Regions from separate parts of the Homo sapiens genome. Here region 1 is reported to be linked to region 2. The links are microRNA targets in miRTarBase. Many come from high-throughput screens and were not tested one by one. Region 2 holds a microRNA gene; the other region holds the end of a gene's coding sequence.
The links. The annotated mature microRNA hsa-miR-3126-5p reads UGAGGGACAGAUGCCAGAAGCA and lies in region 2 at 3,182-3,203, opposite strand. An mRNA with a match to its seed (bases 2 to 7 or 8) in the 3' UTR can be bound and repressed. Matches are read on the target gene's strand: a 7mer-m8 pairs with bases 2 to 8, a 7mer-A1 pairs with bases 2 to 7 and ends in A, and an 8mer does both.

Region 1 (5,000 bases), not on the chromosome of region 2:
TCCAACCCTTTTGTTTTGTTTTGAGACAGTCTTGCTCTGTTTCCCAGGCTGGAGTGCAGTGGCACGATTATGGCTTACTGCAGCCTTGACTTGCGGGCTCAAGTCGGGGCTCTCCCCCTATAAAATTGAACGAAACTTCTACCTTGTATTTTGGCACCACAGTGGCCTGTTCTGTTTTAAAAGTTTTGTTTTAGAAGATTAAGAATGGCTTCTGCAAAAATCAAAACTAATTTAAACTGTGCTGTTGCTAATTCCCCTCGGCTTGAAAACCATGGCTTCCACTGTCCTGGGGTATGAAGAGGTCTATGTGAAAAGCGGTGGGAAGGCCATGGGAAGTGAGTGATGGAAGCCAGAGGTTTCCTGGGCCCAGACAGCTGTCCTGCTCAATATCTTCTAATCCAACAGAGAGGAAACACGATGACCTGGTAGAGTACTTGTTATTATATTTATTTATTTTTCTTTTAGCTATTTACAAAATTTTATTTCAGTATATTTTTCAGAAGCATAATTTTACGTTTCTTCATATTTTACTTTGTTAAAGTCCAGACCAGTCAAGGTCCTTTTCATGCAAAGATGTACATTTAATGAGGACAAAGAAGCCACCCAGTCACCTGGTGAAGCTCTGCTGCTTTGTGCCCCTTTTTGGGTCAGGTCGTCCAGGACATCCAGGTCTTGGTCTTTCTCCTCTTTTCTTGATTTTCACTGCCTGGGCCCAGCATCACTTCCAAAGACCTCCGTTTGTTTGATTTTACTGTATTTAATCTGCTTCACAGAATGTTACCGACTTGGCTGACCTCTGAAGAATCCCCCGGTACTGCCCTATGTCAGGCACCACAGCCAGCTGTGCTAAATTCGGGCACCTTTAGCTCTGCTGACTACTGACCCTGGGCATGCAGTCCGGCCGGCGAGATAGTGAGTGCAAAGTCTCACACAAATTGAGTCAATAGAAGTGACCCTGAACAACTGGGCTATTTCATAATTTAAGTTTATCAAAGAGAGACTTTAACATCCTCTCCCTCCCTCCCCTGAAAACCCAACACTGATAATATAGATTTTATATTGATCACAGGACACTACACAACAAACACAAAGACACTACACTTCTAGTAGGACGAGTCACGATTTCCTTTGATGTTGGGCTATGGAATAGCTAGAAAGTTACTGCTCATCACCACAGCAGGGTACCATGCGAGTGGATAGCTTAATAAATGCATTCATTAGTTAATGGCTTTAAGGGTTAGCTATTATATATATGGAATGAGGAAACCTCATTAGGAATGGCCACAGTCTCAGCAAAACTCAGCTCTAAATATGCAAAGACTTTGAAGTCCTGCTATTAACAAGATGACATGAATTGTAAGAATACATTTGACAGGCTCTAGTAAGACCCAGCAGATCGTCCATGACCTGTGCAAAGGCACCCCACAGTGGCAGATGGAACTGGCAAGAACTTGGTAGGAAACGTGTCACACATCCCCACAATAAAATGATACTTCAGAAAGACAGACAGGGGTGTCCTTCCCATGATAGTGGCAAAGAAGGGATCCTGGGTCGGGGAAGTCGATGGGAAGGAAAGAAATGGAAGGTGGGTAGAAGAGTAAAATAGGGGTTGTTGCATCCCAGATGCTGCCCAAGCTCCAAACTACCAAGCATTCTGCACTTCCAGAGTTACCTGGTGTGAGGTGAGGAGAGGGATGGGATGGAGGCAGCTTGCTGGACAGGGGGTGACTGCAGGCTGGGGAGGGGCTGGGAAGGGGTTGGGGACAGCTGAGGACTCAAATGACACAGAGGACAGACCACATACAAGACTCAACAAGGGGAGATCTGGCAACGTGCAGGCTAAAATGACCAAATCCATAGCAAACTCAGAAGGTTCACGTTCCCGAAAGGGTGTCACTGCCAAATCTCCACCTCATTTTGACACTTAACCTACAGAGTATGAGTCGCAGTAGAGTTCAACTGCTCTCATTGCAGCACGTCAGGGCAAGATATCCTTTTTAAGGTATAGTATTATATCTAGCTATATGGATCTATAGAGATATTTACAACTGGCCTCGCTGCCCTTCCTCTGTGCTGTGAAGCCTTCATGTGCATTGCTTCCAGACAAATCTTAAAACCCTCCTTTTCTTCACACTGCTCCAATCTCCCTTTATGACTTTATCCCAAATGAACTGCTTGCCACCACAGGGTTGAAAGCACCTCCAGGGTGCTGGAGACCCAAATCCACGTCAACCAACCAATGCTTAGGCTCCAGGAAGCCAGCCTTTCAATAGCCACATTGGGAGCTTCAGACATGGAGTCACTGCTCTCCCCTCCACCTGAATCTCTGTATGGGGTATCCAAAAATAAAGAGGCAATTTTAGCTCTTCCAGTGGTAACTTTCTTGTTTTCAACTGTCGTACAAGATTTGTGTGTGTGTATGTGTATGTGACTGTACAAGTGTCTATTCTCAATGCCTCTTTCAGCCTCACTCCCCAGCCTGTTACCCCGAAACATGTTCCTCTAGGACAAAGTGAAATGCTCTGTACTTGCAGCTTCTTCCATGGATTAACCACTTCCTACCTCAAGGCACTAGCTCACCACTTCTTAGGACTACATTCACTTCCCCAGTCTTCTATCTAGGAGACAGCACAGATGGATGGAGGGACAGGGCAAACAGTGGAAGGGAACTGGGAGATGCTGCTCCCTGGAACAGGAAGTTGGAAAGAAACAGTCAGTTAAGCAGCCCGGCCAAATAGGGCCCCTCCACCATATGGGAGCAGGCCAAGGGAATTATAGTGGTTCTAGAAGGGTCACCAACAGGGAATACATATGCTTTCAGGGGTATTTCCTTTCACACCCATTCAAATCAGATAAACATAGATATGCAGACATGCCCTTATATACATGCACTCAGCATAGACCCATGTGTACACAAGCATACACATACATAAGCCACACTTTCACAGGGATGTGCACACACACGCATGCATCCACATGCTGTAGATACAATTCTGTACACACCAATGTAGATTTACACCACTAGACACGGCACTATGCAGCTTCTCAAATGGTTGTATATGTACATACACCCACCCTGCTGCATATGCATACACCCAGGTATATACAGAAACACAAACACAGAAGCACAGTTAAAGGGTGAGTGGGTAGAGGGGTAAGGGACTGAGGGAGAGACTGCATAGGGAGGAAGAGGTGGCATATGTTGAGTGCTCGGCAAAGTTCACTCCCTCACAACCTCCATCAGTGAGGTGGAGCTGCTTGGCAAGTTGGAATGCTGGCCAATCCTACTTCCGTTAGGGGCCCTGCTCAGTGGGCAGAGTGTGTTCTCCATCTGCTCACGTCACGCTCATTGGCTGGTCACCAGCCTATTCCTGCAGAGATGCCCCAGGTGCTAGAGGATGTGGTGGGGGCCCTCTGGAGCACCCTCTTTAGGGAGGGAAGAAAAGGAAATGCCTCAGTTGGGACAGTCAGGAGGAAAAAGACAAGAAAGAGCAAGTGGGGTGGATCTACCACTCACTGGCTGCATGTCCTCAAGCATGCGGCATAAGCTCCATTCGTTTTCCTTGGAACACTGGGGACAATGTGCTTTGCCTTCCCTGGCTTACAGGGCTCCTGTGAGGCTCCAGTGATGTAATGGGTCAGGGAGCTTGTTGACACTTACTATGCACTAGACAAATAGAAAGGATTAGTATATAGACTTACGATAGATATTCATCTGCTAGTCTAGATCAGATGGTAAAATAGCAAGTGTGAATTATCCTAACCTTAGTGCTTATTCACCAAGTGCTGTAACTGGTGATCAACTCAGCAACTGACGGAAAGCTAACTCCTGACTTAGACAGATGTATTGAGTCTCTATTGCCAAGCGTTCTGAAGCAGAAATATAGGCAAGTTCCAATCCCTCCGAAGAGGCCAGCTCAACTGTGTAATTTCCAACCTGACATCACCCCCCACCCTCTGCCAACCCCACAAGCTGAGTATGTGCTCTCTCACCCTGATGTCTCACTCTGCAGCCCCATCCACCCACATTCCCCTTCCACGCTTGCATCAAAACACCACAGTCAAATGCCATACAGTGGGGGAAAGGCACTTACAAATGCTCCCTAAGTTTCCTATAGGAAGTTCCCTGAACTTCTAAGCCATGGCTAGCCCTTTAGCTATGAACCCCAGCCCAACCCAGCTTGACTTTCTTCTATAAAGCCCTAAGCAGAGGGTGAACAAGACCCATAATCCCTAGGAGGAAACAAAAAAAGAAGAAAACATGTAATGAAAAAGAAATGTTGACACCTCAAGGGGGACAGAAAAGCCCCCCAGAAATGTTTGTGGGCAAAAGGCCCAGATCCTTGCCCCATCCCCCAACCTGGCTCTTCTCTGTCCTCTAAACATTTCCAGGGGCTTTTCTATGCTTATTCCTTGTTACAAGTCTTTGAAAAGGTGAGAGTCTTCTAGCAGGAAAGGAAATCCATGTGCTGTATACCTCCAACTCCTCCTCAATCCCTTCCCTTCCAGCTAGAACATGTTCTTTCCAATTACTCCCCACCTCATGTTTATAAAGAGAAGTATGAACTTATTGGATTGCCCAAATAACCACAAAATAAAAGGAACAAAGGAAAGAGGGAAAAACAAACCCAAAAGAAACTGAAAGGAGCACAGCACAGTGCTCCCGCTGTTCTGGAGCACTGGGGGACTAATACATATGGTATACCCAGTAAACAATGTTGAACAACCCAAAGGCCAGAGGGAAGAGGAACCGGGACCACTTGTCGACCTTTGGGACGTAGTCAGGATTAAAGAGATCGAAGGAGAACCCTTCAGTGAAGGAGCACCCAGGGCTTGGGGGGCAACTATCCTCAGACTCTGAGCTACTGTCCTTCTCTTGGCCATGGGCCATGAGCTCATCATCATTAAGGCCCCAGGTACTGTTAGTATCACACTTGAATTGCTCCTTAATGGCAAGGCAGTCGCTCTTGTCATTGTTGTCATCAAGGTCCCAGCCTGCT
Region 2 (5,530 bases):
CTTTCAGATTGGCTCTCTGATCCTCTCTTCTTGTTTGTTCTGTTTGTTTCATTCATCTTGACATGGTTTGTCATTTTGTGCCATCAGCCCACCTTTAGGGGGTTGTTTGCTGCAGGCATGCTGTGGGGCTGGGCTATGTGGAAGACTCCCACAGGGTGAAGGTGCATGGCCTCTGTAGGGCCACAGAGATCAGGAAGATCACGGACACATTTTGGGGCTAGTTTCTTGACTTGGTGCTTCTGTATCACATGGGTGGTGTAACATCATTACACCTGTGGATTTTCATCCCCTGCCTGCTTCCTTGCCCAATTAAATGATTGGTGTATCCTGCTGGAGCCTGATTTCTGCAGGGGGCTCTGTTTTTGTGTGATGCCTTGGCACAGACCTGAGATCTGGTGTCCTGTATCTGCATCAGCATCGGGGTCACAGCCCGCAGCCTGGCCTGGAGCCCCTGTGACTTTGTTTCTTACTTAGGTTTTTATTCCCATTTTGTTTCCTATACTTGGAGATTCCCACTTCTTTCCTTTGAGTGAGGCCACACAATGTAATTTTAAAAATCATATTTCATCCAGATTTTTGGATCTATTTTGTTGACCACAAATCTAGAAACTGTCTTGGATTTCTAAGTGGTTGATTTTTTAAGCAAATGCAAGGAAATTGGGAGAGAAGCATGTATTAACCTATCTTCTGGTTATGCTTATCATCTAAGAATGTGTCTAAACAATTTCTACTTTTGGCATTAATATATTGGCATTTTATCCATGTCTTAGCATGATCAATTTGCAAAGTTGTTCACAGTCATTTAAAAAAGTATTATATGCCCTACCTATATCTTTAGAGCATAAAGATATATGCTCTATATCTCTAACTTTTAAATTAAGTTTTAAGACTTGAAAAATCATATTAATATCTCCCACTATCCATATCATTTTTAATTTGTTCTTTTGACAGATTTTGCTTCATATAGCTTGCTATTGCATTATTTGCTGAAGATCCTGAGGTCTGCCTCATGTTTGAAGTGGCTAGAGCCACACAGCCTTAGCTTCATTATTGGGCCTTCAATTAAGTCTTTCTCATTAATAATGGCACTTATGTTCTCTTTTTGTCACAAATTCCAATGCAGCACTTAGGAAAAAAAATCTTGAAAAAAGAAATATGTGATATAAAAATAAAAACAGATAACATTTTAAAACTTGGGGTATAGAGGTGGGGAAGGAAAATGGGAAAGGTAAAGGAATCTAAGTGTATTTTATTTTACAGGGAGGAATCAGTAGAAACTATGACATTTATAAAGTTGACAGAAAAATGTAGATCTAAACGTGCTGCATTTTAGAATTTGTTCATCTTTTCTACCTCCACAGGTTCTTGTTCATATTATTTTCTCCATGGAAATGAACAGGTGAATTACTAACTAAAGGCCAAGTGTTTTCCTCAAACGCTATTTTTCCCCTTAGAATATTTTTAATAGCTGTATGCTTGAGTTTTGGGGTGTTGCTTGCAGCATAGAATATGATCAAATCACTGCCTTCATCTTCTCCAAACTTAGTATTGTGCTAAAGGCACGGGTTTGTGATTTAAGCCAAATCCCTACCCCAACAACCTCCATTTCTTTTTGAATATGAATGAGGTGACAAGCCTGTGCATATGTTTGCAACTATATATTAGGAAAGGAAGAAAGGAGAGAGAGGGATGGACTGGTTTCCCAAGAAAGAAATAAAATTTCCCAAAGAAGTTGGAAAATAGGCCTTCGAGTACTCACTTGACAAATCCATAGTGAGTTTGCATTTCATCTTCTTCCTATTATTATTTGGATGGGGTCTCACTCTGTCACCCAGGCTGGAGTGCAGTGGCATGATCTCAGTTCACTGCAACCTCTGCCTCCTGGCCTCAAGTGATCCTTCAGCCTCAGGCTCCAGAGTAGCTGGGGACCACAGGTGTGCACCACCACGCCCAGTTAATTTTTTGTATTTTTGGTAGAGACAAGGTTTCACCATGTTGCCCAGGCTGGTCTCGAACTCCTGAGCTCAGGCCATACACCCACCTCAGCCTCCCAAAGTGCTGGGATTACAGGCGTGAGCCACCGTGCCTGGCCACATCTTATTTAATACAGCATCTTGTGTAACCTTTGAGCAACGGCACATAGGGTAGATTCTCTCTCTCCCCAGCCCACTTCCATGTATCTTCAGAGAGCTTGGGCCTGAAAGCCTGCTTGTTTGGGAAGTCTTCTTTGGAAGGTATTGATGTCTTTGAGTTAAACCTTCAGGAGTTTCTGATGTTAGACTTGGGATTTTGGTTAAAGAGAAAAGGGGGACTTAAGTGACATCACAATTGACAGGGAGAAAAAAGAAAGAACTCTGCTGGGGGCACACGTCCAACTTTCACACTGTGACTACTCAGGGATATTTCAGAATGTTTTCAAATAGCACGTACTTTTTGGATCTGTGAGAGCATTTCCAAATATTAAGAAAACTAACCGAATGTTTCTAATGTTTGGAATTACTCCAAGGCCAGGAATTCCAGATGTTTGTGAGGAAGACACAGCATGTGTCTGTTTAACTACTAAAGTGGGTTTTATGATGTCAAGAAGGAAATATCCATAGCCCTTCAATTCTTCTTCTTTAAAAACAAGATAACCTCCTTCAAAAGGCTATGAGGAGCTGGGTGTGGTGGCTCACACCTGTAATCCCAGCACTTTGGGAAGCCGAGGCGGGTGGATCATGTGAGGTCAGGAGTTCGAGACCAGCCTGGCCAACATGATGAAACCCATCTCTACTAAAAATACAAAAAATTAGCTGGGTGTAGTGATGCACACCTGTAATCCTAGCTACTCAGGAGGCTGAGGCAGGAGAATCGCTTCAACTTGGGAGGCGGAGGTTGCAGTGAGCTGAGATCGTGCCATTGTACTCCAGCCTGGACAACAGAAGCAAAACTCAGTCTCCAAAAAAAAAAAAAAAATAGGCTATCAGGAGGAGAAAACTAGTGTGAGTGATTAGTCAACAAATGTGTGTCCTCCTGTCCTCCTTGCTCTCTTTACCTCTCAGGGCTGTTGTAGCAAAAAGATGTGAAGCATTTAGAAGGTACATAGCATTACAGAAAATGCAGTATATTATGACAGTTATCACTGCAGATGTGGAATAAATAATTATCTGTGTGACGGATGCCAGATGCAAATCATAACCAGTGCTTCTGGCATCTGTCCCTCATATAATCATCTTCCCCATCTCTCCTGGTCAACCACATGAATCACGTACATCTTTAAATTAGGAACTTGACTGCTACAAATGTCTTGTGAAGAAGCCAATGTTATGATAATTCATTTTTTCTCATGAAATGCACTTAGTTTTACTCCATATTCCTGTATTTCATGTAAGATATTCACCACGATGAGAGTTTCTTGGCTACTCCACGCAAGAATCATCCAGATTGAAAAAAGCTGCAGAATCTACATGTGCAAGCCTAATGGTTTGGTTTTCGGTTTATTCAAGATTAATGCATTTAGACCATTCCTTTTTCACACTTACCCTTAAGAGTCCCAATACTTTGTTAAGGAGGCTCATGTTTCTGCAGTCCTAATTAACCATCACCAGCACTCCCACCTGAGAGTGAGCCACTCGGTAGATGGCAGGGGACAAGGAAACCAGTGCCCCGCTGCTTCCGGAGGGCTGCTGCAGGGCTGGGGCTTGTGGCTCTGTGTTTTGTGGAGGACGGGGACTCAAGTCCAGCCTTGCTCTGCTTACCAAGCTGGACACCCATGGGGCTGTGCCCACCCAAGTGGTGCCTTTTCTGACTGGAACCACTGTAAGGGCTCACTATGCCCTTGCTGGGGGTCTTTCCAGCAAATAAGACTCTTTTCTGCTGGTTTCATGTGTGTGGCCTTGCTGGAAGACAAGGGTGGGAATTCCCTTCCTTGAAGCCACTTGTCGAAGAAACCCATGGACTCTGCAAGGACTTACTGAGTGTGACCGAGTCATTGATCTTGAAGCTGCAGAGGACCCTGTCCACGTTGCGGGCATGTCGGAAGCCGTTTCCTCTCACGACAACTTGAAATGACTCTGAAATAAAGAATAATGACGAGACTCGTTACTTGGCCAATAACCTTAAGCTTCGCATCTGCCCTGATTTAGAGCATTTGTTCACTATTTCACCAGGCTTAAAATATTCAAAAATTAATTTAGGTTGAACACCAAAAGCAACCAGGTGGGTTCCTTTCACTACTTACCAGTGCATCCTCACTAGGTGTCCCAAGAAGGGCCTATCACTTCTTATTTGAATTCCCACCCTTTTACCTTTGGGCTTACTGGTCCTCCTAACGCAGAACACCTTCCTCCCTCCTCTCTGTCCATTCAAATCTTAGCCAGTTTTCAAATCCAGGCAGTTTGAAAATCTGTGATCTCAGTAGCCGGAGGGAGCCACAGGGGAGGGGTCCTCCACTTCCTCTTTAATCAACTCACCTCCTCTGTGTCTGTTTTGCACATTGTACTCCCCTGAAAGGATTTCTTAAGAGCCCACGGTGCCTACATTTTAGAAAGTCACTGCCTTAGGGCATTCACAGCTAGTCCTGAACAATGTAGGACTGTCATTATGTATGGTCTGGTGGTGTTCTCTTGTCTTTTCTTCCCCAGCTGGAGAAACATTCCTTTAGGTCAGGAGTTGTTTGATACCACTATGGCATTCCTATCTCTACTGGGCACACAGTAACAGTACATAGGCTAGGTAGGAATAATTGTACTTAGGAATGAATCAAAGTCTTTCTTAGCAGTGGTCAGTTGCCAAGCACTACCTACTTGAATTGATATCAGCCCCTCAGTGTAGTACTCATTTGTCTCTGCATAGAAGAGATCATATATCTTGCCTGGCCTGCATATTAATTTCTCATTGGCATAATGTATGTTTGATTAATGCACATGAATAAAATCGTTATTAAGTAAAAACAACTCTCCTTTACCATACTCCTACCATGGAAAAAACCCAATAATTAGTTGGCTAAATGTTTGGGAATATTTGCTTAAGTTTGTTGGTATCTAATGGTCAGTGTTCCACTTTATTTCACTTTTATCATCCTTTTGTATCTAAAAATTGGGGCTCGGGATAATGCTATGTGGCATATCACAAGAGAAATAGACTGAAGGTCAGAGGAAAAAATGCAATGTTTGTGAATATGGATCTTACACAGTACATTGCCATCTAAATGTAGACTTGTTGTTGGAGGAATAATGAAATTAGAGAATTAGTATATGGGACTCTCGAAGCTTAATAAATGTCATGAGTATATGCCACCTTCAGTCCCAGGAAACTAATTTAGAGGCCATGTTTGCCAAGACAATAATAACTAATGCTAATTGCTCCCTCAATGTGAGCCAGGCCCTCTGTGAAATATTGTACATGTCTGATGTCATTTAAACCTCACCACAGCCTGGGGAGGTACAGATGAGACAACTGATCTTAGTGAAGTTAAGTAATGTGTCCAAGATCACACAGCTGGTAACTTGTCAGAATCAGAACTGGAATCGAGGTCTGTTAGGCACCAAAT

Region 1: miRTarBase lists GABRQ as a target of hsa-miR-3126-5p. Seed matches in the 3' UTR shown: 7mer-A1 at 3,164-3,170 and 7mer-m8 at 2,642-2,648.

The regions. Positions count from the first base shown.
Region 1 is chrX:152,652,969-152,657,968 of GRCh38, reverse strand. It overlaps GABRQ (gamma-aminobutyric acid type A receptor subunit theta), which reads right to left. Exons shown (of 9, transcript NM_018558.4): 9 at 427-5,000. The coding sequence ends at 4,688. The region is part of intron 2 of MAGEA3-DT (MAGEA3 divergent transcript); the gene reads left to right. Among named protein-coding and RNA genes, the nearest start is that of GABRQ, 18 kb to the right of the region's middle.
Region 2 is chr2:69,101,364-69,106,893 of GRCh38, reverse strand. It overlaps MIR3126 (microRNA 3126), which reads right to left and starts at 3,212; the gene lies at 3,139-3,212. It overlaps ANTXR1 (ANTXR cell adhesion molecule 1), which reads right to left. Exons shown (of 18, transcript NM_032208.3): 10 at 3,954-4,052.